Homo sapiens: one gene and its partners. The protein of the gene in region 2 purifies or fractionates together with the protein of the main gene of each other region. This does not show direct contact. Each region holds a gene or a part of one and is shown on either strand. Other genes may lie near its edges. The genes, in order: ANKS1A, DAB2IP and CGN.

The links.
Region 1: the proteins of DAB2IP (region 2) and ANKS1A purify together in Homo sapiens (affinity purification with mass spectrometry; 2 studies listed by BioGRID and IntAct, with this or other methods). This does not show direct contact.
Region 3: the proteins of DAB2IP (region 2) and CGN purify together in Homo sapiens (affinity purification with mass spectrometry; 2 studies listed by BioGRID and IntAct, with this or other methods). This does not show direct contact.

What each region holds. Positions count from the first base shown.
Region 1 is NC_000006.12:35,081,255-35,089,343, reverse strand, and holds part of ANKS1A (ankyrin repeat and SAM domain-containing protein 1A), read right to left. Parts: intron 6,654-8,089; coding exon 6,528-6,653; intron 6,190-6,527; coding exon 6,118-6,189; intron 5,928-6,117; coding exon 5,841-5,927; intron 5,227-5,840; coding exon of another isoform or gene 5,224-5,226; coding exon 5,086-5,223; intron 3,579-5,085; coding exon 3,408-3,578; intron 2,393-3,407; coding exon 2,295-2,392; coding exon of another isoform or gene 2,273-2,294; exon of another isoform or gene 745-2,272; intron 739-744; coding exon 735-738; 3' UTR 1-734. UniProt on the Homo sapiens protein: Regulator of different signaling pathways. Regulates EPHA8 receptor tyrosine kinase signaling to control cell migration and neurite retraction.
Region 2 is NC_000009.12:121,645,136-121,656,137, reverse strand, and holds the start of DAB2IP (disabled homolog 2-interacting protein), read right to left. Parts: upstream 4,505-11,002; 5' UTR 4,363-4,504; coding exon 4,239-4,362; intron 1-4,238. UniProt on the Homo sapiens protein: Functions as a scaffold protein implicated in the regulation of a large spectrum of both general and specialized signaling pathways.
Region 3 is NC_000001.11:151,520,101-151,530,337, reverse strand, and holds part of CGN (cingulin), read right to left. Parts: intron 10,173-10,237; coding exon 10,072-10,172; intron 9,925-10,071; coding exon 9,855-9,924; intron 9,743-9,854; coding exon 9,647-9,742; intron 6,905-9,646; coding exon 6,777-6,904; intron 6,113-6,776; coding exon 5,980-6,112; intron 5,665-5,979; coding exon 5,452-5,664; intron 4,697-5,451; coding exon 4,548-4,696; intron 3,364-4,547; coding exon 3,231-3,363; intron 2,508-3,230; exon of another isoform or gene 2,400-2,507; intron 989-2,399; coding exon 779-988; exon of another isoform or gene 774-778; intron 430-773; coding exon 223-429; intron 1-222. UniProt on the Homo sapiens protein: Probably plays a role in the formation and regulation of the tight junction (TJ) paracellular permeability barrier.

The DNA of each region.
Region 1 (8,089 bases), on a different chromosome or scaffold from region 2:
ACTTCCCAGCACTAGAAACTGCACACTTATCTTCATTTGGCCACTGAACCTTCCCATCGGGAACCCCAGAAATGGACCGGAAACCTTTGAGTTGCTCAGGTGCCTCTAAGGCTGTGTTCTTACGAGAAGCCTGTGTCTAGCCCCTGAAAGGGACAGGAAGTTGGGCAGTTCATAAAGAGCAGCAGCTGATATGGTTGGGTTTGAAAAGCAGACGCACCGTACTCAATTCTGCCTGAGCCTGCTCCGTTCCCCTCACCCACAGGCCACCGCCTTCTCTTCCGACCCACTGAGCTGCACCCAAGTTCCGTCCTGAGGACAGAGGCTATGCAGGCTGGCCTCTGAACCAACCTCAGCTCCCCTGTCCTCTGCCCCATGGCCATTTGTCTAAAGATTGGCAGTATGACCTAGAGGTTTGAGCCAAGTGTTAAAAGTTCATTTTATAAAAAGATTTTTTTTCTGTTAAAAACAATGTGTTCTGAACAAGTCACTTCTTGACCCTCTGGAATGCCAGTCCCATCTGCTAGCGGCCTGGAGTGCTTCTCCACAGCCAAGGCAGGGCTCGTTCTGCAGGACGTGGTGGTGGCAGGCCCAGGCCAAGTGGCCAAGAGGAGGTCCTGCAGGCGGAGGTGAGGCCTGGGTCTTCAGAGCTGCAGGTGAGGCGATGGCGGTGGTGGCAGTGGGAGCCTATGCCCCCACGTCTATGTTTCCGCAGCACAGTGTGGTTCCTCAGTGGCTCAGCTTGGCAGAAGCAAACAATGGGGGGAGGAAAGGGTTAACCAATGGGGCCTGCGGACGGTGGAGGAAATGGAAAGGAAACACAGAGCAGGACAGACGATCCCTCACAGCCTCCCCGGGGCACCCTCCATGCCTGCTTTGAGCACCCACAGCCTGCAGCCCCCACTGCCTCTGGCTCAGTGACTCTGCTCAGGAAGGCACAAGGATGGGTGGGTACGCAGGACCCACCCAGTTTATCGACTTGGGTTTTGACTGCCCTGGCCGACTGGCTTTCCTAGTGGACTCTGCTATGTGTGCACGGCTGCCTATGGGCGCCGCTTCCTTCCTGTCTCCTGCCATCCAAACTGATTTGCCCACACTGGAGAATGGGGTGCCTCTTCAAAGACTCAGCTCCACCATCCCAGCTTCTGAGCTGCTGCGATGGGACGGCCTCTCCTTTCGGAGGAGTCAGGAGGCTGAGGGAGGTGGTCAGGGGCATGCTGGACGGCGCTGTCTATCTGTGATCCCCCACCGTGGAGAGTGTCAGAAAGCTCCCAGAGGACAATGGAGGCCACTTGGTCCAGGTCCCTGTCCTCCAGCAGCTCTGTTCTGTGAGGGAAGAAGGTGCGCCGTGTGTGCAGGGCACAGGCCGCCTCCTCGTTGGTTCTACGGAAGGCCTTCCTCCTCAGTGAGCTAGACTCCAGAGCCAGGCCCAAGGCTGCCAGGCCTTGAGACTCCATGGCGAAGATAGAGGGGCTGTCCACACACATGCCACCCACCTCCTTGGAGGGGAAGGCCCATCAGGACTGAGACACCTGCTGTGTGAGCCAGCCTGTGAGTGTTCAGATACCCAGAGCCCCAAGTGGGGCAGTCAGCACGGACCCAAGGGCCTGGCGCATATCTTGGGCCCTCACAGAAAGCAGTCTGTCCCTGGTCCAGCCACATCACTGAGCTCAAGGTCTCACAAGGGCCTAGCCATGAGAGTGAGGCCAGCACCTCGGAGTAGCGGAGGACAGTGGGGTGGGGCTGCAGGCCGGCTGTGAGCAGAGTGCTGGGGACTCTGGCACTGGGTGGTCACAGTGGTTGGTTGGTTCAGGAGAGGTGAGAACAGTCAGCTAGCTCTTGGCAACGGTGCCCAGCTGTGGCTCAGTACAGCAGACAGGAGGAGGGAGCCACACAGAGCCCAGCCCAACCCTGGGGAGCTATCAGTGCCGTTGGGATCCTGCTGGAGACTGCCCTGCCCGTCGGGGTTCACAGTGCCTGCCCGTGGAGGCTTCCAGGGTGCAACAGAACCCCTGAGCCCTCTTGATGCCCACCTCAAAGGCAACTCACCCCCTCAAGCTGTCCTCAGCCCAAGGGGGAGAATTCACAGTGTTCGGTGGTGGTAGGTGCGAGAGCTGCAAGTGTACAGCGTCTACGCTGCCGCCCGCCCAAGAGGAGCAGGTCCCAGTGCAGGTGGGGCCTTGGCATCAGCAGCTGGAAGGAGAGAGTTGAGGACAGCAGAAAGATCGGATGGCAAAGGCACAGTGAGACTAGTGGAGACAGGGAGTGGGTTGTTTTAGAAGATAGTGGTCTCATACTTGGTGCTGAGGCTCCGCTTAGAGTCTGGTTTGGGGTCCACAACCCAGGAGACACTGGCATGGGATTGGGCATCTTGGTCCATATCAGGTGGTTCCAGCTGCCAAACAAGGAAGCAGTCAAGAGTCAGAGGGAGCTCTGTGCCAGGGCTGGAGGCAGCAGGCCCCTCCCACCCCCAGGCCAGGCTGTGGCCCCTGTGCTGGGAGGGGCAGCCCTTATTCTCCTCGGCCAAAGAGCAGGCCCCTGGGGGCAGGCGGAGGAGGGACACCCTCCTGGAGCATCTTGGGGAGGGCCACCTCCAGGCACAGCTTCTCTCCGGGATTTCTTGGGATTGCTCAGTTAAAGGACCCCTGTCCTAGGCGGGCCTCCTGCTCTAAGCCCCAGACCCACTCACACTGGGCAGGAAGGGGATATGGGGCTTGCAAATGTCCAGCCTCGGGTCTCTCTGGTAGGCCCAGAGAGCTCACCCCAAGGCAAGACCACAGCAGTCACCCCAGACCTCTGGAGAGAGGACACACAACAGAAAAACAGAGAGGGCTGAAGCACACACAGAACAGGCAGAGGGCATCTCAGGAAGAGGGGAAAGAATGTCACACAGGCAGAGGGAGAGGCCGCCAGAGGCTAAGAGCGCTCACGGTCACTTCGGGGAGACTGACACACAAGACAGCAGGAGGCGTAAAGACCTTGACTCCAGGACTAACAGATGGCAGCGGTAGGTAGGAAGGACGGTGGGTGGTGCAGGTGTGACAGTAACAACAGCGACTATCGGGGGGCAGCGGCACCTGGGGTGCAGAGCAAAGCAGACACAGACACAGGGATGGCGCAGTTACTGGGGGCTGCCTGCAGGCCGCTCTCTGCAGCCCCTTGACGGCCTTGCCCTTGGGGGAGCCCAGCGAGGGAGGGAAACAGGAGCATGAGAGGCCCGCCCAGGCCAGAGGAGCTGCTGCCTTTCCAGGGGCGAGACCTGGCAGGGTTGGGGGACAATTAAGAGGGTCATTTCCCTGGAGGGCCAGCTTTCTGGAAGTGCCAGAAGACCCTCCTCACGCTGACCACCCTGAGCCCTTGAATCCCTGGGGCCAGGGAGAGGGGGATCTTGGCCAGTGGGGCCCACGTACTGCGGATTTCCTCACGCCGACCCGAGGCTTAGGCACCGGTTTGGAAGATTTTGTTTCAATCATCTCAGCTGCAGAGGCGCCCGTCGCCCTGGACTTCTGGGCCTGCAGGGCCAACTGATAGGCCACTTCGAAGGCCTGCCCCAGCGTCAGGATGATCTCGTAGGTCAGGTTCTGGGAGGAAGCAGATCACCACTTAAGCACCTGGTTCAGGAGCCGCTTCACACTGGATATGCCCTTCCTCGCAGGGACCATGTGTCCCCCTCTAAGTCTACCCGGGAGCGCTCCTACCTCCTTCCACTCTTCCCTCCTTTCCCTCCTTTACTCTTCCTAGGTCTCTGTTGTTCTTCCCGCTCTACACAGGATGTGGCCGGGAGCTGGGCTGCGGGGAGGGCAGGTGCACACTGCTGTAAGCCTACGGCAGGTCTTTTCCAAGGCAGGGTGCCGTGCCTGCAGCAGTACTTGGGTATTTCTTACCATTTAATGTAAGTGGTGCTAGTGCTTTTATTTTTAATGTGTCACCGACAAAGTCTGTGAGTGCTGTGCCCCTAACTCCATTTCCCCATAAACCCTGTGGTTTTCCTTGTGTGATTTTACACAGCACAGTGATTGTTAGGAGCGTATGTGTGGCGTTACAGCAGAACTGAGTGTATGTGGGAAAAGTCAGCAACAGGTAAATGCCACTGACTGTGCTGTGTGGACCACCTCATCCATCTCACAGTGGCCCCTGAGGTGGGCCACATTATATCCCCTCCAGACAGATGAGGAAGCAGGCAGATGCGATGTTTCCAAGCTCACACAGCCAGCAAGCAGCAAAGCCTGGTTCCTCCTAACCTTCACTGGCCCAGAGCAAACAGAGGACTGGGGTGGATGAGGTCCCAGGAGTGTGGGGATGCCCAGAGCTGCCTGTATTCCAGGAGCCACAGAGATTCTGGAAGCAGCTGCTATCCCTGAGGGCGGCAGAGACCTGGACCCCTCTGACTTCCTCCCGGGGTGAGGAAGCAGCCTGGGGCCACTCTCATGCTTTGTTGCAGGTTAGAGGGAACCCCCGCCTGTGGGCTGTCAGTTCTGGTCTGCTCCCTGTGGGCAGCTGTGTGAGAATGAACTCTCCTCGGCCCAGTGGCATCCAGAGCCGAGCCTCAGCAGGAATTTGAGGGAAGAAAATCTGCCAAAGAGGGCACCACTGCCCCTAAGAGGGAAGTAGAGGGCATTTCTGGGAGGCGGCCCAGCCAGAGGTTGGAGACCTAGGGCAGGGAGCCGGGGGAAACAAAGGCCTTGCCTGACCTAAGAAAACACTCGCCAAAAAGCTGGAAAGTCAGGGGCGGTGGCTCACGCCTATTATCCAGTTACGTGGGAGGCTGAGGTGGGTAACTTGCCTGAACCCAGGAGTGCAAGGCAAGCCTGGGCAACATAGTGAGACTCCATCTCTTAAAAAAAAAAAAAAAAAGCTGGAACCTCCTGTCCCTAGTGCCCTGGGCCAGTCCCTGTTCCCTCTGCGCGTCAGTCTCATCACTGTGAAAGGGGACCGGCCTGAGTGCTGCTGGGCTCCATTCATGAACCAAACATTTGCCAGGCACTGGCCAGGGGCCAGGACAGCGCCGCATCTGTGCCCTGCAATGGGGCTGGACGCCTCAGGGCTGCAACCCAAGCCTGCCCCACCCGGCCCCAGGACCCCACCCACCACATCCACGGTGCTGAACACATGGCAATAGTGGTGGCTGGTCTGCAGGTCCTTGGTGATGTAGGCAAAGGTACAGAGGTCCTCCGGGTCCTGGGCCGCACAGGAAATGTTCCGGATCTCGTGCTCTGCAATGACGTTCTGCTGGGGAAAGCCGTGTTCTGGAATTCTCAGGCTCAGGCATGCCTCTGGCACCCCCTGCCCCAGCCTGTTACCATTGTCACTGTTCTCTGTCCCAGCCTAGAGCATCAAGCAAACCCCCCTTCATCTTCTCATTTTGTTTATTGGTGGGGGTGGGGGTCCCCGATTTTGGTTTGGGGTCTCCACCCCTTACCACAACAACTAAGGCAGTAAAATGTTCACACCCAACCACAAGCTCTCCCCAGCCCCTCCCACCTTCCAGGGTGGGGGCAAAGTGGGAAGGGTGTCAGGAAGGTGGGATCCCACACGGTGGCACACAGAGAAAGTCCTTTGCTCACGGAGGGAATCACACCTGTGAGCAGGTGTGCGGCCAGTGGAGCCCAGGTGGCGAGGCTAACAGCAGTGATCACTAGGGCGGGGACGGGGCTGACAGCAGGCACCCAGGCCAGCAGATGAGAGACACGCCTCTTAGCAAAGTGGGAAGTAATAAGAGGACTGGGGACCCTCTAGGGAGATAAGAGATGAGACAGGGCAGCCGGGTTGCTTGCCCTGGAGCCCTGTGGGTCTGACGGGGATGTGGGTCCCACTCCCACCAAGAGTCCCTGTAAGCAGCACACCTTGTTGGAGGCATCGATGAACTTGACACCTTTGTATGTGATGGACAGGATGATGGTGGGGATCTTCTTCATGTGCTCCGTAGATTTCTACAGGAAACAAGGGGTGGCCCTGTCAGTGCCCCTTCTCAGGGCTAAGCCTCCTGGGCTTCCACAGGTCCCAGCTTCCTTCCCATCCTTACATAGTGCAGCAGGGCCCAGGCAACTGCAGCTACTGCCCCCATTGCTGCCTTCTGCTGGCCAGTCCCACAGCGCCCTCCAGCCCACACAGGCACCCTACCCGCATCTTGGCACAGGCGTCTTGCGTGGATTCTGTCCCTCGCAGATCTTTGATCAGCATGGAGCCCAGATACTGTGGGGGCGAGCAGTGGCCAGGCTTAGGAAATCCTGCGTTTCCATGCAGGGGTGACCCAACCAATTTGGGACTGTCCCACAATCAAGTAGTTACCCCTCTCAATAACAACACCCCCTCTCCTGCCCCAGCTGGAGAGACCCTCCATTCAACTCCCTAGCTAAAGGATCCAGAGGCCTCCACCCCTTCGCCTTAGCTGTCAAGAGTGGCTGAGAGTGGAGAACAGCTCAAAAGCCCTGGGCCTGGCTTTGTGGAGTCCCTGCTGGGACTTGGCCGCAGGTGCCTGGCCGAGAAGGAGCAGGGAGGCCGGCCCTGCTGGGAGGGTGGGAGCAACTCACATTGGCTTCATAACCACAGGACTCGAAGATGAGTTTCTCTGGCTGGTGTTGCCAACTCTGCACTGGGGCGTAGGGGGCTGCCAGGCTCGGGGGCCGCAGGGTCAGCTTGGCCTCACGGTGCTCCTCCTGCGAAACACACGCAATTGGACACCTGCTCCTTGCTCCAGAGGAGCACATGGGCTTGCTGCCTGGCTCCAGCACACTCAAGGGTGAAGATGCCAGTGACCTTAGCAAGTTCAAGGGTCGAGTGGAGATGGCAGGGGGCAGACCAGCAATTCAAACACACTGCGGGAGAGGGGAGGTGCTAGCCACAGCAGAGGCACAGCAGGGACCCAAACCGCCTGAGAGCAGGGCTTGGGAAGGACAGTCTCTGTGGTGTCCGAGATGAGTCTCAAAGGAGATGGGAAATGACCAGAGAGGAGATGGCAGAGTCTGTGTGGGGGGCACAGGCTGCCAGGCTGTTCTGCACAAAGACCAAAGGAGAGAACAGCGCCCACGAGACCCTGGGACGCCTTGGGACCCAGCCCAGGGCCTGGGAGGGATCTTCACAGCGGGGAAGCCAGTGAAGCACCCGCCCGTGCCTAGGAATGCATTCCAAATGGATCCTTCTGGCAGCAGCTAGGGGGTGGGGGAGGCCACTGCGGTCCAGGTGAGAGATCATGGGTCCCTGTCCAGGGCACTGGTGGAAGGAATGGAGAGGAAGGAAAAGATTCAGGAAACACGGAGGCCCTCCCTTCCCAGCAGTGCGCAGAGCCTCTCAACAGCAACCGGAATTGCTGGACAATGTGTTTAAAAATCCTTTAAAACTCATGGCTGTGCTTGTAGAAAGGGAAAGGAAGTCCCCAGAGCCAGAAGTGAGAAGTGAGAGTCAGAGAAACAAGCAGGGGTGAAGCTGAAGTTCACCCGGAGGGGCCTGAGGGACACCTGCTAATCCTGTGTCTGACAGGCCAAGAAGAGGACAAAGGACAAAGCCAAGGTCCGTACAAGGAGGGAGGCAGGACAGGCAGGTCCTGAGTAAATCCAGGACCCCTGGAAATGATGCCCTGAGAAGGTGAGCCAGGAGTGTGAGACGGGCCCACCTCCGCCAGGGCTGGAGCGGGCACCGGGAGCGGAGGAGGCGTCTCCAGCGGTGCCCCCCACGGGGCTGCAGGCAGAGAACAGGAAGAACAGAATCTGGTCTGGCTGTGGTTTTGCTGAGCAGGAGGAAGAGAATGCTGCCGAGGTGAAGCTGCAGGGAAAGCAGTTCTGGGGAACAACGTGGGTAAGCAGAGAAGGAAGGGGCCAAGAAGGAGCTCAGAGGCCAGGAGAGCACAGAGGGCTCTGGGGCCAGCAGGGGAGGCAGTGCAGGACGCAAGAGGCCACAGAGAAAGAGCGGACAGGGGATCTGAACCCCTGAGGGAGGGAAGTACAGGACACAGGAGTGGCCCCAGCAGCTGACAGCTAAAGTGAGTTGTGCGGCCCGAGCTCGGCACCATGGGTGCTGGGTGGGCCTTACGCAAGGCGGCTGGGTGTGGGCGAGCAGAGCAGGCTAGTGCCTCCTGACTCTGGTGCCAGCCCAACTG
Region 2 (11,002 bases):
ACTCGGGAGGCTGAGGCAGGAGAATCGCTTGAACCCGGGAGGCAGAGGTTGCGGTGAGCTGAGATCGCGCCATTGCACTCCAGCCTGGGTAACAAAAGCAAAACTCCGTCTCAAAAAAAAAAAAAGCCAGGGTCCCCTGAGAAGTTACCCACCCCCCATGGTGGCACACAGGTCCTTACCTAACTGTTCTCTTGGTTAGGAACCAGTTGTATGAAACCATCCTCTCCCACCACGCGGGCAAGATACAGAGGCATGCAAGAGGGGTGTGTACAGGCACGGAGGAGGACCTGACCATCTCAAGAGAAAAACATCTGCAAAACCCCCAGCTCCCAGCCAGGGCCTGGCAGGTGGCTGGACCCCTAGAAAAACTCAGATGAAAACATGAACAACATAATCAAAACCCCTCATGGCTATGGGTATAGGCATTCCAAGAGGCAGGAGAGCAAGATTAACCCCCCTCGACAGATGGGGAAACTGAGGCCCTATGATGTGCCCAGTCATGCAACCAGTCCGCGGCTGAGCTGGAACTACAGCCCCTGCCTCCCACTAACCACTGCTCTGTCCCCTAGAAAGAGACTTGTGCCCTAGTGCACCCCAACAAGCTGGCCTCCCCAACAGACTGGGGGCTTGGCAAGGGCTGGGAGCACATGTGATTCATCTCCATGTGCCCCTGCACCCAAGCTGAAGCCCAGCACATAGTAGGTGCTTAAGAGGAGCTGACTGGCTGAATGAATGGGTCAGAACTTTATCCAGGGCTAGAGGAAAATTTCTGTTTCTCCTAGCAGCCCTGGGGAAACACAGGGGTCAGAGACAAAACTTTTCTTGATTTTGGTGTGACTAGGTGGGGAGGCACCTTGCTGATGATACCCTTCTGGGGAAAGGATCCCCCCAAATCCATGGGACATGCCCAGCCTTCAAGTGGAGTTAGGGACACAGTGGGAAAATGCAAATGGCCCTCACCCTCCGAAGGTCACTGTTTCTACCCCACCTCCAGCTACCCTCCAGCTTCGTGCTCTACCCCCCACCACAGCAGGTCTCACTCTGCCCATCCTTCAGATGGGGAAACTGAAGCCCAGAAAAGGGAAGAACCTAAGTCCCTTATTGGTCAAACTAGGGAGACTGCAGATACTGTCCCTCACTCACAGCCCTACCAGGGACAAAGCCCTGCTCCCTTCCCCCAGCCTGGCCACCTGCAGAACCTGGCAGCAACCAACTCTTCCTTGCATTTTTCTGTTTCTGAACAAATACACAGCCTGAGTTCTTGGTCATTTTCCTTCCCTGCTAGTGCCAGAGGCCAGAAAGGGTGTGGGGGCAAGAGTCTGATCCAGGCTGAGATGCTAGGCACCACCCACTCCTCTGAGGTCCGATGCTACCACACCATGGGACCAAGCCCCCATGTGGATGGGGAGGCTGAAGTTCAAGGTCAGAAGGGACTGGCTCAAAGGCCACAGGGTGGCTTCCTCAGCCTGAGTTTCTCCCTGGGTGGGGCCCTGCCCTCAGGTGGTGGTTGTGGCTCTGGGGTAGAGTCAGGCGTCTGAGGCTTTAGTGGAGGGAGGGCAATGGCTGCCCTAGCTGCCTCCCACCAAGGAGGAGGAGGACAGGGTGCCTCCAGCCTCCACCCTACACCCTGGCTGCAGCTGTAACTAACTCCTCATCACTCCAGGCCTTCTTTTTTTAAAAAAACAAACAAACAAACAAACAAAAACAATATTGAGACAGGGTCTTGCTATGTTGCCCAGGCTGGTCTTGAACTCCTGGGCTCAAGGATTCCTCCTGCCTTGGCCTCCCAAAGTTCAAGGCCCTTTATCAAATCCAAACTACTGTTGCCTGCTCTTCCCCACCCACTCACCCAGCCCCCTTCCCAATCCACTCCCCTCCCCAAACCCAGGAGGAACTCTATTCTCAATACCCAAGCCGTTTTCCTTCTCCCTGACTGCGCAGTCTGTTCATTCTGTCCAGAGAGAAGACAGTAGCTCACCCTCAGCTGCAGCCTTAGTCCCAGGCACTGGCTTCTGGCCCTCACATGACCCTGTCACTGCTAGCCCCATTGACCACACAAGGTCACTGAGGCTTGGAGAGGTAACTGGCTGTAGAATAGTTGTGTGCACAGCTGAGACTTGAACCCAGATCTGACTCAATTACTCCCTCTGCGAAGGGAAACCCTATCCATTTTGTGAGATCCCATCCAAATGTCACCTCCTCTGTGAAGCTCTCCCTGATCTCCCCAGATATAACTTCTGTTCAGAGACAGTCTCCTCCCCGCTCTGCAGGCCGTGAGCTCCTTCAAGCTGGGACACAAGCAGTGATCCTGTGTATGTGGGGTCTGGGAGCTGGGGCTCAGGTGACAGCCCCTGACACATTGATTATCCCCTGCCTGGTCAGCTGAGCAGGAGGTCAGCTGAACAGGAGCGAGACTCCCATTACAGTCAGGGATGGAACTGGGCTGAGGTGAGAAGAGGAAAAGGTCACACAGGGCATTTCTGAGGCAAAGGAGGGGCGGGTGGGTGAGGTGACGTGAGGTGGGTGCAGAAGGAGAGGCCCCAGGGTGGTCTGAACAGTACTGGGCATTTTCAAAGCTCCCATTTCTCAGTTTCTTCACTGAATCCTCCACATACGGCAGGTCCATTTTACAACCAGGAAAACTAAGCTCAGAAAGGGGAAATGACTTGCCCAAAGTCACAAAGCTTGAGCCCAGATTCCCGGTCTCCCAGACCAAGTCCAGGGGAAGGGAGTAAGTACAGAATTAACAGTACTAAGCCTTTCTCCAGGTCTTAGCAAGTACAGAATTAAATAGAAGGACAGAGATAGAAGAACCAAAACCTGAACCACTGAGATAAAGCCTTCCCCAGGTCTTTAGTACTCCCTCCAAGGAGTACTAAAGGCTTAGTACTCCCTCCAAGGAGTACTAAAGGCTTAGTACTCCCTCCAAGGAGTACTAAAGGCTTAGTACTCCCTCCAAGGAGTACTAAAGGCTTAGTACTGTTAATTCTGTACTTACTAAGTAACTTAGTACTGTTAATTCTGTACTTACTAAGACTTCAGGAAAGGCAGGAGTGGGGGGATTGCAGGCTTTGAGAGACCCTTGAGGACTGAACTACCAGCACACACCTGTGCACACACTTAGCCTCAGCTTGAACCCTTCTGTGCACAGGGAACTCACTACTTCCTGAGGAAGCCCTGGACTGCACAGTGCTACTCAGACCTGACTGTGGGAAAAGTCTTCCCCATTCTGGTGGAAGCAACCGAACACTACCTGCCTGCTTCATTTACCCTCACACCGACAAGAAAACTGAAGTTCAGAGGCAGCTCAGCCCAGGTCACACAACGGCAGCCTGCAGGGTGGGAATGTGGCCCCTCTTGGTCTACCAGATTCCCTGCATGGCATTTGTTGGCACAGGGCCCGGCTTCCCACTTTCAAGATAACCTGATGGTGTCAACTCGGCCCAGGTCCCTGCTAAGGCGCCGTCTTTCTCCTCCCTTCCACCCCACGGGCACCCTCGGTGGGCCTGAACCTCTGCCTAGGACTCCAGCCTCCCCAGAGCCCCTTTGAAGGCCTCCTCCTCCCAGGGGCTTCCCTCCCTCCTACTCAGCCAGGGAAGGAAGTCCCGGCCACCACCCGCCCAAACGCAGCCCCCGGGATCACACGCATTTCCAGCCGAGGATCCTGTTACTGGAAAAAGAAAATGCTGCTCGCACCTCCCCCTCCGTCTCGTCCTGCCTCCTGAGCTTGATGGAGAGAAACTTTGCAAAGGAGCTGGCGCCCACCCGCTCGAGGGGTCACGGTTCCTTCCCTGAGGTCCACCCACTTGTCCTAGCACCCAAGAGGTGGGGAGCCCGTTAAGTTCCTGGAAAGGGAAGAAAGAAGTCCGCGGCCTGGGCTGGGAAGGCAAGGTGTGGGAAAGCTCAGATCCACCCTGGGTTACTTTATTGCCCGGCTGCTGAGTAAACTGAGGCACAGTGGGGTAGGAGGTCTGATCTGAGATGCGGAGAAAGATTCCAGGCTCCCCTCTCCCTGTCCCTGGCTTAAGAGGAGACCCTAGAGCCTCGGCTTCCCCCGGCGAGAGGAGGACTAAGCAGAAGCTGGGGGAATGGGGGGTCCGGCAGACTCAGGAAGGGGCGGATGAGGAAACCCCCGGCAAATGGCTGGAAGGAGGATCCCGGTCCCTAGCATCCCAGGGCATCAGGTGGCTTAGTGGCCTTAGGAGGGTCTAGGGGTCAGGGGTCGGGGTGGCGCCTACCCCTGGCAGGCCGGGTCCGGCTGCGGGAGCGGCTCCTCTGTCGCTGCAGCCGGGGCCGCCTCAGCAGCCGGTAGTAGTAGGAGGACCTCCCGGTGCTCTTCCTGGCGCTGCCGCCCGCGGACATGCTGCCGCCCGCCGGGCACCGGGCCGGGCCTGGGCGCGCTCACACGGGCCCCATCGGCCGCTCCGGACAGCCCGGCGGGCGCCCACGCGTTCTCCCGCGCTCGCCCGAGCGGCCGCCGAGGCCCTGGCTGCCCCACAAAGTCGCTCAAACTCCTCCTCCGCCTCCTGCCCCCTCCCGCTCCCCGAGCAGCCGGCCCCGCGGCGGGGGCTGGGGACCCGGAGGCCGGGCTGGCACCGGCCCGGAAAGTCAGTGCGGGAGAAATCCCGGCCTGGAATCGGCGGGGCGAGGCGGCCCGGAGTTTCCCCGGGACCCCAGACGGGTCGTCCCGAGGGTTCTGGCTCCCACCCCCGCCCCCGAGGGTTCGACCGTCGACCTGAGGGCGCACCAGGCACCCAATCCCGCCAGCGCGGGTAGACGGTGCACACCTGCTTGTGCGCTCTCCGGAGCCCGGGGTAGGACGCATGCTTGGGGACGGTCACCTTCAATTAGGGTCCGTTCCTGCCCCAGGCTCGCTGGGCTGAGAAACGACCCTCACTGCTCCGCAGGCCCTGGCCCAGCCAGGTTGAAAGACTCCCCTGTGATGCAGGATACTTGCCTCTTCTTTACGTTTTAAAGGTTGTCCCGTCTGATACACGTATCATTTTTATGTAATTAAAATTACGGTGTCTGTTTCAAGCACTCAAAGCACTGAAGGCAGGGCAGAACAATCCCTACCCTACCGTAGGCACCAGAAACTCAGGGTGGCAGAAGGAAAGGTACCAACTCCCTCTATTGCATTGGCTGAAAAACTTTCTCCAAGTCACTCCTCAGCTCAAGAGCTTTCCGTGGCTCCCCAGAGCACAATGGCAATACGTCTAAACATCCTTGTTATTTGGACCCCAAATAATCTTGCCCCAACCAAAGTCCCCTCCAGCCTCACCTCTGCTCCCCCTAATTCTCACTTCTCTTTGCTGTGCTGCCAGCAGGGACTGCCTTCTTGGCTATTTTCTCCACCCGACCAAAGTCCACCCTTTCAGGACCCAGCTCCTCCACCCTTCCCTAACCATGGCCCACAGTGATCTCTCTCTCTCCCCGCCCCTTATCTCTTTAGCAATATTCGTCGTTTAAATTATTAAGACACCTGCCTGAGCTGCCTCCTTTGAAGTACAGAGGGGGAAACTGAGGCCTTGGCAAGGAGGTCTTGCCTCAGTCACATGGAAAGTGGCAGAGGCAAGTGGTCTTAGCCTGGGGCTCTCAACATTCAGACTTAGGGGTGGGGGGTGTGAGTCACCGCAAGTGCCTGAGGCCGGCTAGGGGATCTTCCTCCAGAACAGTGGGGAAGGTGGGGCCCTGGAGTGGGCGGGGCCGTCTGGGCAGAAATCCAGGCCGGGTTTTGCACCTCACAGGGGAAGCCCCCTCCCTAGCGCTCTCAGCCAGCGGGGAGGGTCCCTAGTCCTGCGGAGCCTGTCTCACAGCTGGAAGCCAGGCGCCTTCCCTGACCAGGGGGGAGGGGCAGGAGGGGTGTTACTCCAGCAAACTCAGTCTGAGGAGTCCAGAGCTATCAGCTGCCCTGGTCCCCTCTTCCCTGAATACTGGCCAATCCCACAGGAAGATGGAAAACCAGGGTGCCCAAGAGGACACCCTTAGCCTCCTTTGGGTTAGGCCAGGGGTGCCCAATCTTTTGGCTTCCCTGGGCCACACTGGAAGAAGAAGAATTGTCAGGCCACACATAAAATATACTCACACTAACCATAGCTGATGAGCTAAAACAAACAAACAAACAAAAAAACCACACACACAAAAAAACCTCATCATGCTTTAAGAAAGTTTATGAATTTGTGTTGGGCAGCATTCAAAGCCATCCTGGGCCACATGCAGCCGGTAGGCTGCAGGTCAGACAAGCTTGGAGGCATTGCCCTATCTCCTTTCAACAGCAGACATGGTGCAGGAACGTCTCTAAAAAGAAGCCCCTGGACAGAGCGCACACACAGTCACTCAGTCCCCAGGCAAGCTGGGGGCCTTGTTAGCATGCATCCTCCTCTGGCCAAACTGCCAGAACCCAGTTCAGTGCCTCCTCACGTAGGTGGGGTTCTGAGCACCACCTGTCCACATCTTGGCACTTCCAGGCATGACTAACCTCCGTAGCCAGGTCCACGGGTTCTGGGGGTGAGGGACTCCCAGGAAGTCCTACTCAGGACGGGGGCAACGGTCCTGCTCCCAGGGCCTGAGTTCATCTGGCCCATTTTGTTTCCCAAAGCAGGAACCCTCTGATCAGCCAGGTTCCAGCCCTCCCTGGAGGGGACGGGAGGCTCACAATCAACTCACTGTTATCAGTGGTGTGGGCAAGTGGTCTTAGCCTGGGCCCCCAACAGGAAGTCTGAGGAGTGTGTGTGGAGGGGAGAGGGGGCAGTAACTTGGAACTCAGGACCTCATCTGTAAGCACAGCTGGGCTCCAAAGGTCTGGCATGGTCTCCCCACTTCAGCTTTTCAAGTCCTTCTCTGTGCCTTAGTTTCCCTACCTATAGGGAGAACGTATGGACCCCCAATCCATCTGCCTTGTGGAGGAAGGAGGGTCAGCTAGTGAAATGGAGGAAGCTTGTGCATTTCTACCCTTGGGATGGGAATGGGCATCGCCAACCAGCTGAGCCGAGCATCTCCACGGGCCTGGGGCAGGTACTCTCCGGGTACTGAGTGGGAAGGGGGCAGGGCAGGAGCTAGGAGAGAAAGAGCCCAGGCTCCTTTTCCTTCTTCCTGGCCCAGGAACAGGGCAGTTAAAGGCCGCTCCCTGTACAGCCCAGCAGGGGACCTGGAATCAATCCTGCTGGGAAACTGGCCCCCCATCTGCTCCCACCTCCCGCCGGCGCCCCTGTGGCTTTCTCTCTCTGAACAGGAGAAGCCCTGCTTCCAGTGCCCACCACCACCATTGCTACCACTGCTTCCTGTGACAGACCAACAGATCGGACTTTCCAGCCCTGCCAACATGAGAGCCTCAGTACCTACAGGGCTAAAGGTCTGGTCTTATTCTCCCACCTCCAGAGGGGCTCCTGAATAGGCCCAGCTCCCACCTCTCCCATGTGCTGCTTTAGCGGGGACAGGGCTGCAGCCCCCAAATCACCTTCACTCAGTGAACAGGCATATTTCTGAGTTTCCCTCAAGACGCTCAATTCAGTGGGTCTGGATGGGGCCTGGAAACATGCAAGTTTAGTAAGTAGGGGTGTGGGTACTAGGACTGGCTAAATCAGATCTGACCTAACCCCACCACCAGCACCTTTACCCTCCCCTCAAAAGCCTCCCAAGGCGAACTCTCAGAGACCAAGCTGTGTCAAAAAGCGACCACCTCCCGCTTGCACCCCAACCCATTTCAGCCCCCTTGGTCATCCTCCAGACACTCTTTCCCACCACCAGTCTTCGCCCTGTTGGTGGGACCTGGACCGCTGCCACCAAGGTCTTCCCTCTGCACCCACCTGGTGCATTCCTGCTTACCCTTCAGGACCCAGCTCAAGCATCCCCTCAGTTTTTTATTTTTTAAATTTTTTATTTCCATAGGTTTTTGGGGAACAGTTGGCATTTGGTTACATGAGTAAGTTCTTCAGTGGTGATTTGTGAGATTTTGGTGCACCCATATCCCGAGCAGTAACTTGGGATACACTAAACCCAATTTGTAGTCTTTTATCCTTCACCCCCTTTCCACCCGTTCCCTGAGTCCCCAAAGTCCATTGTGTCATTTTTCTGCCTTTGCATCCTCATAGCTTAGCTCCCACTTATGAGTGAGAATATATGATGTTTGGTTTTCCTTTCCTGAGTTACTTCACTTAGAATAATATTCTCCAATTCCCATCCAGGTTTCTGGGAATGCCATTAATTCATTCCTTTGTATGGCGGAGTAGTATTCCATCATATATATACATATATACCCGTATATATATATAATACGTATATGTATGTATATATATAATATATATGTATATGTATGTATATATATGTGTATATATGGGTATATATACGTATATATGTGTGTTTATGTATATATATGTGTGTGTATATATACATTTTTGCAATTGCAAATTGAAGCACCCCCTCCTTAAAAAAGTCTACTCTGACTCCAAGGAGAGACACCCCCCTCCTGGCTCCTGGTATACCCCACTAGTCAGTTTGAATAATGGGGACACAGGAGGCTACTTGTGAAGACCAGGGAGGGATGGACCCAAAAAATTCCCCTCTAGGCAGAAAACCATCAGCATCCCTGCTGGAAAAGAAGCAGTGGGTAGCATCAGAGCTGGGCTGAAAGTCCAGGTACATCATGGGCCAGGCCAGGGTGGGTCAGCAGGGGCACCAGATGCAGGGGAGGGAGGCTAGCCCAAGGCAGTCTTGAGTCCCTCTGCGGTGTCAGGGTTGAAGTCAGTGAGAAAAGAGAGAAAAAAAAGCATATTGCCAAAATTACCTTTGAAAAGCCTTAAATTGCCCATAAAGCATAGTGTTTCCTCCAATCTTAAGACAGATCACCCATTTCTGCAGCTAAGCACAAAACAGAAGAGCACAGCCTTCATTGATGGGCCATTCTGTACAGGGGGGATGATAACAGCAACCACAACCAGTTATCTTCAAACACCAGCCTCCCCCAGGGAAGGGGAGATGCTCATGCGTGGGGCACCACAGAAACCCAAGGCTTCTTAACAGAGGAGGGTTACAAGTTTGACCTCAAGAGGTTTGTTTGAGGGTGGAGTTTGGGTTTAATCCTAATCATGGTAGCTGAACTGCATCTAGCATGCACTGTCCCAGATCCTGTTCTCAGCATTCTACCCACATCATCTCATTTAATTTCAGAATAATCCTAGGAGGCAGATGGTTATTTCTTTTTCCAGAAGAAATGTCAAGAGGCAGAGAGAGGGTAGGTGAGTTCCCTAAAGTCACAGGGCTTGCACTAGGAGGCAGGATTTGAACCCAGGGGGCTGAAAGGAGCAACGATCATAAGGTTGAGCAGTACGGAATGCAGAGACGGGGGAGTGGAAACAGTCTAGAACTTTCTTTAATAGCCAGCTTTGTCAAGGGACAGGAGGAGGCTAGGGGCGACAGGAGTCCTGACAGGGGAAGCATCGGAGCCCACACTAGGCCCCACACAATGGGTGTCTGGAAGGCTCAGACCTGTCAGGTTTCCTGTTGGGATGAGGGTGGGTGGTGGTGACCGGGGAAGTCCCCAGCCAGGCAGGCCTGCACACATCCGCCTCCCAGGACAGTCTCAACCTTTCAGTCTCTGGAGCTCTGGGCAGGGGTGGGGGTGGGGGGGACAGAGGGTCGGGGTGGGGGGGGTGGCGGGACACTTGTGGTTAAGGTCATGGCCTCTGCCCCAGGAGGTGGCCTGTCTGGCAGGCAATGACGACTTCCTGCATCCACTGTTCATCCGGGAATAAGGCTGGACCAGGAGCAGGATCTTCACTAGGAAGATGGGGGAGGCTGGGGCCAGGTCACCCCATTCAGGGAAAAGCATAGACAAGCCCCAAGAGGTCACACTAAAGCACTCCAGGCTAGCCAGGCGACCACCACTGCCACCGCCCCCCAGACTTCCTCCCAAAAGCCACCGATATATTTAATGACATCGTTTGCAGAAAACGGTGCAGTCAGGGACAAGATGACCCCAGGCTTGGATGGCTCTGCCCCTCTCAACACAGGCGGAAGTGGGGGACCAGTCAAGCGTGGACATTTGAACACACAGAGACAGAGCCTCGGGGAGTGTGAGTGTTTTTCCAATCAAGTCACCCAGGGCTGGGCCGAGGGCAGAGCCCTCGGGACAGGCCGGAACTCTAAGAGGGGGTCACCGTGTGATACCTCTGGGTCTCAGGTTTCCACGTGTTAAATGGAGATGAGACAGCTCTGTTCAGCTCACCTCCCAGAGATTCCATCAGGATCTAAAAATCTCCCCATTCCCCAAAGGGCCACCTACAGGTCCCCTCCAGTCCTCCAGAAGCCCAGAGAAGAGGACATGCACGTCTCCCTCGTACACGTCGACAGCCTGTCATAAAGCCCCGGAATGTCCGAGGTAGAAGGAACCTTGAGAGAAACTGATGAACGGGGGAAGCTGAGGCCCTCAAAATCAGCTGCTTACCCAGAGGACCCTCCCTAACCCATGGCAAACTGGGATCTGGCATCAACTCTGCAATCACTGAGGGTCTGGTTGGCTCTCTCATCCCAGCACAGAGCAGTCAGGGTGGGGCAGCATCCCTTCCTGAAGATGGGGAAGTGAGACCAAGGGAGGGAGCGACTCACCCAAGGTCACATGGGGCTGGGGATTAGGGTGGGTTCCACCTTGGAACCCAAATACAGCCGCCAAGACCACCTCTCTCCGTCGAGAGCCTGGACCACCTCTCCCAGAATGCCTGCTGCCTTCTGCCCACAGGAGCCCTGGGCTTCCCCTCCATACTGGCTGCCCTGAAGTTGAGGGCTCCAATCCTGTGGCCCAGGGGAGACTAATCCACTCTCCAGGCCCCAGCCCCAGCCCTCCTTCCTCACCCCAACCCTAGCAGCCGGCATTTCAGCCCAGATGGCCAAGCCTGGAGCCACTCTCTCTGTGTACTTCCTCTCCCTGCCCTGACCCAGAAACGCTGCCAAGCTCCAGGTGGGCCCTGGGCCCCAGTGACGCCCACAGCCCCTCCTTTCTCCCTGGCCC
Region 3 (10,237 bases), on a different chromosome or scaffold from region 2:
AGCAAGCAAAGGGTGAGAAATAAGAAACAAAACTACCAGTGCAAAGACTGAACATTGGCGCCAAAGTATACACCAGGAAATAAACCCAAGGTTAACAGAGCAGGTTTGGGGAGGCAAAACAGATGCACACTAAGGGCAAAGTGAAACTGATGGCTAACTACTTAGCATAGGAGTATTTCACCAGGGCTGAGCAGAGAGGGCTGGGAGGGCAGAACCACTGACCTCCAGCCGCTGCAGCTTGTCCCGTAGTCGTGCCTCCACCGCTTCCCCACCATCCACCAGACCTCGAGTCTCCTTCAGCTGCTGCTCCAAACCCAGGATGCGCCGGCGGAATTCGTCATTTTCCTCCTGGGTCTCCCGAAGCGTCGTCTCCACTGCGGCCCGCCGCTGCCCCAGCACTGTTGCCTCTGCCTCGGCCACCATCTTAGCCTAAGGACGGTTCAGGGGGTGGCAGCTCAGACCCCAGGGCGTGGCAGCTCAGACCCCAGGGCTTGGGGCCATTGACCACACCCAGGAAAGCCATCCCAAAGACAGCCCATAAGAATGAGGCTTAAAGAGAGCAGCTGCCACCAGCCAGACGCTTCTCTGAGAATCCCACCCCTACACAGATACAGGTATCCTCCCCCTGCCAAATCCTGGCTTCTTTGAACCACATGCCTAGGACCCAGGAGCTGGTCAGTACATACCCATGACAGGTAACTTTCCACACCCTCTGGCTCCTCAGCCCTCCAGACACCCTCAGCCTCCACCTCCTAAGCCCTGTGCCCACTCCCCTTGCCTTGGAAGCCTCTTCACAGTCCTGTCGCAGTTGCTGGAGGGTCTTTTGTAGCTGGAGGTTCTGTTCTTCCAGCTCCCGACCTCGATCAGCCTCGACCCTCAGGACCGCCAGCTGCTTCTCCAACTCCCGGTCCCGGTGTCGCCCAGCCACCTCCTGGCTCTGCCGTTCTGCCTGCAGTTCCTTAAGCTCCTCCTGTGTCCGGAGCAGCTCCTGGAAGGAAACGGGAATGGTGATGGGGCACCCAGAGCCAGACTAAGATACCTGAATGTGGAGAAGCTGAAACTCTCATACACTGCCAAGGGAATAAAAACTGATGTGGCCACTTTGGAAAGTAGTTTGGCAGTTTCTCAAAAAGTTAAACACAGATTTACCATTTATATCACCAGCAATTCCACTCTTAGGTAACCCAAGAGAACCGAAAATATGTGTTCACAAAAAAACTTATACGCGAATGTTCATAGTAGCATTATTCATTATAGCCCAGATGGATACACAACCCAGATGTCCACGAATTGATGACTGGACTAAACACGGTATACCCACAGAGTGGAATGTTATTCAGCCATAAAAAGGAATGAAGTACTCATACTTGCTACCACATGGACAAACCTTGAAAACACTATGCTAGGTGAAAGAAGCCAGACCCTTAAGGCCCATATATTATAGGATTCAATTATATTAAATATCCAGAATAGGTAAATCCAGAGACAAAAAGTAGATTAGTGGTTGCCATTGGGTGGGGGGAATTATTGCTAATGGGTTTGGCGCCTTTGAGGGGGTAATGAAAATGTTCTGTAATTAAATAGTGATGATGGTTGTACAACTTTGTTAATATAATAAAAACCACTGGGGGCCAGGCGCCAGTGGCTCATGCCTGCAGTTTGGGAGGCTGAGGCGGGTGGATCACCTGAGGTCAGGAGTTCAAAACCAGCCTGGACAACATGGTGAAACCCTGTCTCTACCAAAAATACAAAAATTAGCCGGGCGTGGTGGTGTGTGCCTGTAATCCCAGCTGCTTGGGAAGCTGAGGCAGGAGAATGGCTTGAACCAGAAGGCAGAGGTTGCAGTGAGCCGAGATTGTGCCACTGCACTCCAGCTTGGGTAGCAGAGTAAGACTCCATCTCAAAAAGAAAAAAAAAACCCATTGGATTGTACACAAAGATGACTTTTATAGCATGTAAAATATAACTCCATAAAAAAAAAAATACCATGAAGGGAGAGTACATGAAGGTATGGCTAGTAAGGCTGGTTGTTTAAAAAAAATACAGTGTGAGGCTGGGTGCGGTGGCTCACGCCTGTAATCCCGGCACTTTGGGAGGCCAAGGAGGGCGGATCACAAGGTCAGGAGATCAAGACCAACCTGGTTAACACGGTGAAACCATGTTTCACGGTGAAACACTGAGTACGTGTATTTTTTTTGTAAAAATACAAAAAAAATTAGCCGGGCGTGGTGGTGGGCGCCTGTAGTCCCAGCAACTCGGGAGGCTGAGGCAGGAGAACGGCGTGAACCCAGGAGGCGGAGCTTGCAGTGAGCCGAGATCACGCCACTGCATTCCACCCTGGGTGACAGAGTGAGACTCCGTCTCAAAAAAAAAAAAAAAAAAAAAAATATATATATATATATAGTGTGGCCATGGGATCTCCAACTGCATGCAAGAGCAACCTGGAGAGACTTTGACAGAACAGGTCAGCACAATCCCTGCAGCTGCCACTTGTCTTTCGTGTGTGTGTGTGTGTGTGTGTGTGTGTGTATAAAACCAAAATGTGTGACACAATAAATGCTGGCACAGCTCTGATTTCTTTTAAAAAGAAAATTAAAATAGGAGTTCTGGTTCTAATTATTAGCTATTAGCTACTTCTGAAATTCAGAAAGTACCATAATTAGGCTAAAGGGTTATATAATATGTAGTGAATCTTCAATGTAATACCATATACTCTGCTATTTTTCTTTTGCTAATTAGTTTTGTTACATTAGTAACCAGGCCATGCCAACACAAGTATTCCAGTCCATGTGATGATATTTCTCAATGTAAATTAATAAACTGAAATTCTAATGGTAAACATTTTTTCATAAATGTAGTTAGAGACCCCTCTGAAAGACAAAGCAGCTTTTGCCATGCTGACCAAATTAGATTTCTGAGCCTGCAAAAATCATCCTGGAGTTTCACAAATCCACCTAAATGCTGCTACCCATGACGTCTCTTGGGAGTCGGCCAGCAGCCTCTGGCTATACCCCAACCTGGGTTCTGAGAGCACTTTCCATTAGAAACCTCTATGCTCAATGAGGAGACTGGTGCTGCTGTGCTGGAAAGAGATCAAGCTGAGCAGGCAGGATGAGGCCTGGAAACCAAGCACACAGGAGATAGCCCCACTAGCAAGAAGGCCCTCATGGAGAGGTAAGGCAGGTGTTCATCACCCCTACCTACCATTCTGCCCCCCAATTCCCAAATACCTTCTTGAGCACCTCAACCTGGCGAGTATCTCCAGCACTAGCTCGGGCCTGCTCTAATTCCCTCTGCAAGACCTCTATCTTCTCTCCAAGCTCCTCTTCCATCTCCTCCTTCTCCATTCGCAGCTGCAGGAGTCTGAGCCAGGCAAGGTGAAATAAAGGGGAAAGGGAACAGAGTAAGGCCACATGCCTGGGGGAGGTTAGCATGACAATAAAAGCCACCTCTCTGGAGGCCAACACGCTGGGCACCAACTCTCAAGAGGAAGGAAGGTGAACGTGGAAAAGAGCAGTTTGAGAAATGGGAGAGTAAGAGCATACCATAGATAGAAAGGAAGTGGGCCAGGCATGGTGGCTCATGCCTGTAATCCCAGCAATTTGGGAGGCCAAGGCAGATGGATCACTTGAGCCCAGGAGTTCAAGACCAGCCTGGGCAACATAATGAAACCCCGTCTCTACAAAAAATACAAAAATTAGCCAAGTGTGGTGGTGCATGCCTATAGTCCCACCTATTCGGGAGGCTGAGGTGGGAGGATGGCTTGAGCCCAGGAGGTGGAGGTTGCAGTGAGCCCAGACTGTGCCACTGCACTCCAGCCTGGGCAACAGAGCAAGACCCTGTCTCAAAAAAAAGAAGAAAGGGACTGGGTGCAGTGGCTCACGCCTGTAATCCCAGCGTTTTGGGGGGCCGAGGTGGGAGGATCACGAAGTCAGGAGTTCAAGACCAGCCTGGCCAATATGGTGAAACCCCGTCTCTACTAAAAATACAAAAAACCCAGGCCTAGTGGCAGGCGCCTATAATCCCAGCTACTCGGGAGGCTGAGGCAGGAGAATCGCTTGAACCCAGGAGGCGGAGGCTGCAGTGAGCCAAGACTGCACCACTGCACTCTAGCCTGGGCAACAGAGTGTGACTCCATCTCAAAAAAAAAAAAAAAGGAGAAAGGGGGCCAGGCGCAGCGGCTCACACCCGTAATCCCAGTGCTTTGGGAGGCAAGGTGGACAGATCACCTGAGGTCAGGAGTTCGAGACTGGCCTGGCCAACATGGTAAAACCTCATCTCTACTAAAAATACAAAAATTAGCTGGGCGTAGTGGCATGCGCCTGTAATCCCAGCTACTTGGGAGGCTGAGGCAGGAGAATCTGTTCAACTCAGGAGGCAGAGGTTGCAGTGAGCCAAGATCGTGCCATGACACTCCAGCCTGGGAAACAAGAGCGAAACTCTGTCCCAAAAAATAAATTAAAATTAAAATTAAAATTAAAAATTAAAAAAAAGAAAGGAAGTGGCATATGAATCATGGGTATTTCTGAGAGGGCCAATGTCCTTACTCCTGCTTGGTGGCTCTAAGATCCTCCTTGTTCTTCTGGAACATACTCTGCCAATGCCCTGTCTCCTCTGAAGTCTCCTCCAGCTCCCTCTGCAGCCCTCGCACAAGGGCTGACATCTTCTGCCTCTCGGCCTCCAGCACTGCATGGTCCTAGAGAAGGGGAGAGTTGGACACCAGAAGGCTCAGAGGGAAGAGGTCACTTCAAATCAAAGTGTGAGTGTGTACAAGGAAAGGCTTAGACCCAGAGGGCACCATGCCAGGTGCACCCCCTGACACTCTTGTGGTACCTGGTACAATGCTAGCAGAGATTCTCTCCTCAAGTCACAGTCCACCCCTCTATCATCTACAGGAAACCTCCCCAGTTATTTCCCCTTGGGACTTTTTATTTTTAGGGGGACAGAGTCTCGCTGTGTTGCCCAGGGTGAAGTGCAATGGCATGATCTCGGCTCACTGCAACCTCCGCTTCCTTGGTTCAAGCGATTCTCCTGCCTTAGCCTCCCAAGTAGCTAGGACTACAAGTACGCATCACTACACCCAGCTAAGTTTTTGTATTTTTGGCAGAGATGGGGTTTCTCCATGTTACCCAGGCTGGTCTCTAACTTCCTGAGCTCAAGCAGTCCACCCGCCTCAGCCTCCCAAAGTGCTGGGATTACATGCATGAGCTACCGCACCCAGTCCCCCTTGGGACTTTTGTCACACAACCTCAAGGTACTTCTGGCCTGTACTCCCTCCCTCTGCCCCTATAGTTTTCCTGCCCAAGGTTTTCAGCAGATCTCACTGTGTCCTTTAGGAGGAGAGGGGGAGTTCCCAGTTGCAACCATGAAAAGTCCAAAAGTCCAAGATCCCAAGGCAGCCTTGTTCTCCAGCAGTGCCCTCCTCTCTCAGACCCTGCTCTTGTCACATGCCTGGGTTGCATCTTGCATGCTCCTGCGGAGCTGCTCTGTGTCTCGCTGGTACTGCTGCCGGACATGTTCCACCTCCTGGTCACGGGAGGCTACCTCCTCTTTCAGGGCCCCCTTCAGGGCTGTCAACTCCCGCTCCCGCAGCCTCAGCTGCTCCTCTACTCGCTGTTTCCCCTCCAAGACCTCTTCCAGAAGTTCCCGGGTCTCTAACAGGTCCTGGAGAAAATAAAGGAAGAAGTACAGGGGTGACCATATTAGAATCCATCTGTTTATCAATTCACTGAGTCAAAAAATATTTATCGTATTAGGCACAGTACCAGGTGCTCTAGTACCAGTACTGGAGCCCAGAATGATAGGTTTCCTTTATCCTAACTCTAGTCCCAACACACCATTGAATCTACCTGAAAGCACACTGAGTACCTGTAATCAGCCACCCACTCCTCATACTTTGGGGAAACCATGGATGAGCAGACTTGAGGATGCTCCAACTGAGAAAAAGCAGAGGCTGGGGCATATGACCCCAGACCCTACCTTCAGTAACACCTCCTTAGCAGGCTCAGGACCCTGGACATGTTTCAGCTTGTTCTGCAGCTCCATCACCTGGGTCTCCAGCCCATGTCGTAAATCTTCACCCTGGTCCAAGAGGCGCTTCATGTTCTGGAGCCTAATAATAGATAACATTATTGCACACTATGTGTCAGGCAGTTCTCTAAACGCATCATATATTTTAATTCATATTTATTAATGCATTTAAACTTCCTTCCTTCAAATCTTGATGAGGCCTCCCCTGATTTTTGCAACCTGCCCCGCTACAACCTGGCCCTCCTGATCTGCCTTACCCTGTTGTATTTACTGCCTTCTCGTGTGTTACAAATTTACTTGCAAAATATGTTTGTTTACTGTCTGTTCCCTCTCAGTAGAAACTAAGCTTCTGGAGAGCGAGCCCTTCATCTATAGGGTTCACTGATGTGTCTTGGGAACCTAGATTAATGCCTGTCACAGCATTCTTGATGAAACATCTGCTGAATGGATGACTGAATCCTTACAATGATCCTGTGAGGTAGGTACTATTATTAAGTCTATTTTATAGCTTAAGAATCTGAGACAGAGGCAAACCCAGGTAGCTTAACTCCAAATCATGCACTACCACCATTATTGATAAAGAAGGTAGAGAGAAAGGCCCTATCCTGTCCTTAAACCAACACTGCCCCTTTCAGCTTCTGGAGATTTCCTTCTGTCTCCTTCAACCCTAGGGGCAAAGAGGGAGTGGCCTCTAAACCTGGCCTAGGCCCCCAAGCAGCCCGAGGTGCGCCACCAGCTGCACTCACTCCTTGTTGCTCTGCTGGGCCTCCCCCTTCCTCCTCTCCAGCAGCTCCTGCAGTCGGCTGCACTCTTCTGTTTTCTCCTCCAGCTGCCGCTCCAGCCCAACTTGGGATGGCTCTAGCTTCTGCCGCTTCTGTAAAAGGGAATGAGAGTACAGCAGGTAGAGGGTAGGGAAAGCCTCTCAGAAAGACTCAGAATAATGGGAATGTCTAACACTCATTGGACACTTGCTGTATGATAGACACTATACTTAGGACCTTATGTGTATTATCCACATCTAATCCTCATAACTAGCCTTGGTACTTGTGATGATGTAAAATATGTTCACAAATTATCTGACATTTCTTTCAAAAGATAAAGCCTAATTCTGTTTGCCTCGAGCACGGGCTTGACTTAGGGGCTTCCTTCTAACAAACAGAAAAAGGAGGACGTGATGAGTAAATTCTGATGTTAGGTCATAAAAAGGCATTGCAGCTTTTCTCTTGGATCCCTCACTCTGGGAAAAAAATAGCTGTTATATTGTGAGGATACTCAAAAGTAGCTCTGTGAGGAAGGCCAAACAGCCAGGAACTGAGGTTTACAACCAACAGCCATTTGATTAAGCTGGGTTTTTATTATTTTTATTGATTTTTTTTTTTTCTTGGTGTTTTGTTTTGAGATGGAGTTTTGCTCTTGCCTAGGCTGGAGTGCAATGGCGAGATCTCAGCTCACCGCAACCTCCACCTCCCGGGTTCAAGCAATTCTCGTGCCTCAGCCTCCTAAGTAGCTGGGATTACAGGCATGCATCACCTCACCTGGCTAATTTTTGTATTATTAGTAGAGACAGGGTTTCTCCATGTTGGTCAGGCTGGTCTCAAACTCCCGACCTCAGGTAATCTGTCCACCTCAGCCTCCCACAGCGCCCGGCCTGGTTTTTTGTTTTTTTTGTTTGTTTGTTTTTTGAGATGGAGTCTCGCTCTGTTGCCCAAGCTGGAGTGCAGTGGCGCAATCTCGGCTCATGGCAACCTCTGCCTCCCAGGTTCAAGCAAGTCTCCCTGCCTCAGCCTCCCAAGCAGCAGGGATTACAGATGCCTGCCACCATGCCCAACTAATTTTTGTATTTTCAGTAGAGACAGGGTTTCACCATGTTGGCCAGGCTGGTCTCAAACTCCTGACCTCAGGTGATCCACCCACCTCAGCCTCCCAAAGGGCTGGGATTATGGGTGTGAGCCATTGCACCCAGCCAATTAAGCTGGTTTTGTCTATCTTATTCATTAAACTGGTTTTGTTTGCTTCATTCACTTATTTATATTTTTTTGAGACAGGGTCTTGCTCTGGCACCCAGGCTGGAGTGCAGCAGTGCAATCACAGCTCACTGCAGTCTTAACCTCCTGGGCTCAAAAAATCCTCCCACTTCAGTCTCCTAAGTAGCTGGAACTACAGGCACATGCCATCACATCTGGCTAATTTTTTGTAGAGGCGGGTTCTCACTATGTTGCCCAGGCTGGTCTCAAACTCCTGGGTTCAAGTGGTCCTCCCACCTTGCCCTCCCAAAGTGCTGGGATTATAGGCGTAAGCCACCATGCCTGGCCCTGAGTAAGCCATTTTAGAAGCAGATCCTCCAATTTACTTCTTTTGGCCACAGCCAGAAGCTGGACTGGAACCTTATAACAGGCTCAGAGCCACAATTACCCTGTTAAGCTGATCCCAGGTTCTTCATCCTCAGACTCTGGGAAATGCTTTTTTTTTGAGAAAGAGTTTCACTCTTGTTGCCCAGGCTGGAGTGCAATGGCAGGATCTCAGCTCACCACAACCTCCACCTCCCGGGTGCAAGTAATTCTCCTGCCTCAGCCTCCCAAGTAGCTGGGATTACAGGCATGTGCCACCATACCAGGCTAATTTTGTATTTTTAGTAGAGACAGGATTTCTCCATGTTGGTCAGGCTGGTCTCAAACTCCCAACCTCAGGTGATCTGCCTGCCTCAGCCTCCCAAAGGATTACAGGTGTGAGCCACTGCGCCCGGCTGGGAAATGTTTGTTTAAAGCTATTGAGTTTTGGGTAATTTGTTACACAGCAATAGTTAATTAATATAGTACTATCATAATCCCCACTTTACAATTTAGGAAACAGAGGCTTAGAACATTTAAAGAACTTGCCCAAGGTCAGTTACACAGCCAACAAGTAACAGAACCAGGATTTGAACCCAGTTAGTTTGGCTCCACAGCCAATCACTTAATCATTACACTACAGTGATTTCCAAAAGACAAGGGAAGTTACAATCCAACATTTATTGAGCACCAACTACACACAAACCAATATGATGAAAGGCAGAAGACATGTTTTTAAAAAGGGTACACTGGCTTTAGAATAAGACTGACCCGGATTTTTTCATTCCTCTCTGCAACTTACTACCATAGGCAATTTACTTAGCCTCTCTGATCTTCAGTTTTCTCATCAGAAAAGGGTCCAGAATAGGTATTCACAGGGTAACTATAATGATTACAGTACCCAGGACAGTACATACTACCAAAATTATACTCAATAAATGATAGCTACTACTATTGCCATTATTATGATAATGATAAAAAAAAATTGAGGCACAGAGAATGTAAGTAATTTTCTTAAGTTTTATATAGCTAGTAAGGGGCAGAGCCAGGATGGGAACTCCCAAAGGGAGTGGAATGGAAGGTAGGTAGATTCCTAATGTGCTCTGCCTCCCTAACCCCCACAGAACCCCAGAAGTCCTTCCTGGAATTAGTACACATTCTTGTCTCTTGTCTCATAAGACACAAACATGCTTGTTCCATTGCTTAGAAGGGTCAGCTCAGCCCATCTCCAGGCCAAGGCTTTTTCCCTGTTTTCCTTCATGCCTCCGGCACCTCTAACCTTTCCTTACCTTCACCTCTTCATCCAGCTTTCGCTGTAGCTCCTCCACTTTTCGGGTAAGCTCACCCTGCCCTGCCACGGCCTTAGTAGAACCAGAAGAAACCATCTGCCAGAGATATGGGGGGTGTGGGGGAAGGGAGTGAGTCCAAGTCTGGATCCCCTGAGGCCCTCAAAGCTCTAACCTTGACCCTTGCTCCCATCCAGAGAAGGCCACTCACCACTAGAGGCTGCATCTTCTCCAGCACCAAACTAACCTTCCTCCTCACAGAGGTTTCACTTTCTGAGCTTCTAGAGGATAAAAGGATAGAAGCAAGGGTTAGGGGAGGAAAGAGGTAGCAGAGATCAGGAAAGGGTAAAATCAGGGAAGATGGGAAACAAAGCTAGAAGAAAAAGAAGGAGGGGTATGCCTCTGTTGTTGGGGGGGCCCCCACTCACCCCTCCCTCAGGATGCCATAGATGGTGGCCTTCATATGGTCCACACTGCCTGGTGGGGCTGCCTCCTGCTGGTCTCGAAGGAGGTCTGGAGTTGATTTGAACTGTTAAAAAAAAAGAAAAAGAAAAAAAAAAGAAAGAAAGAAAGAAATAGGAAGATTAGGCCAGA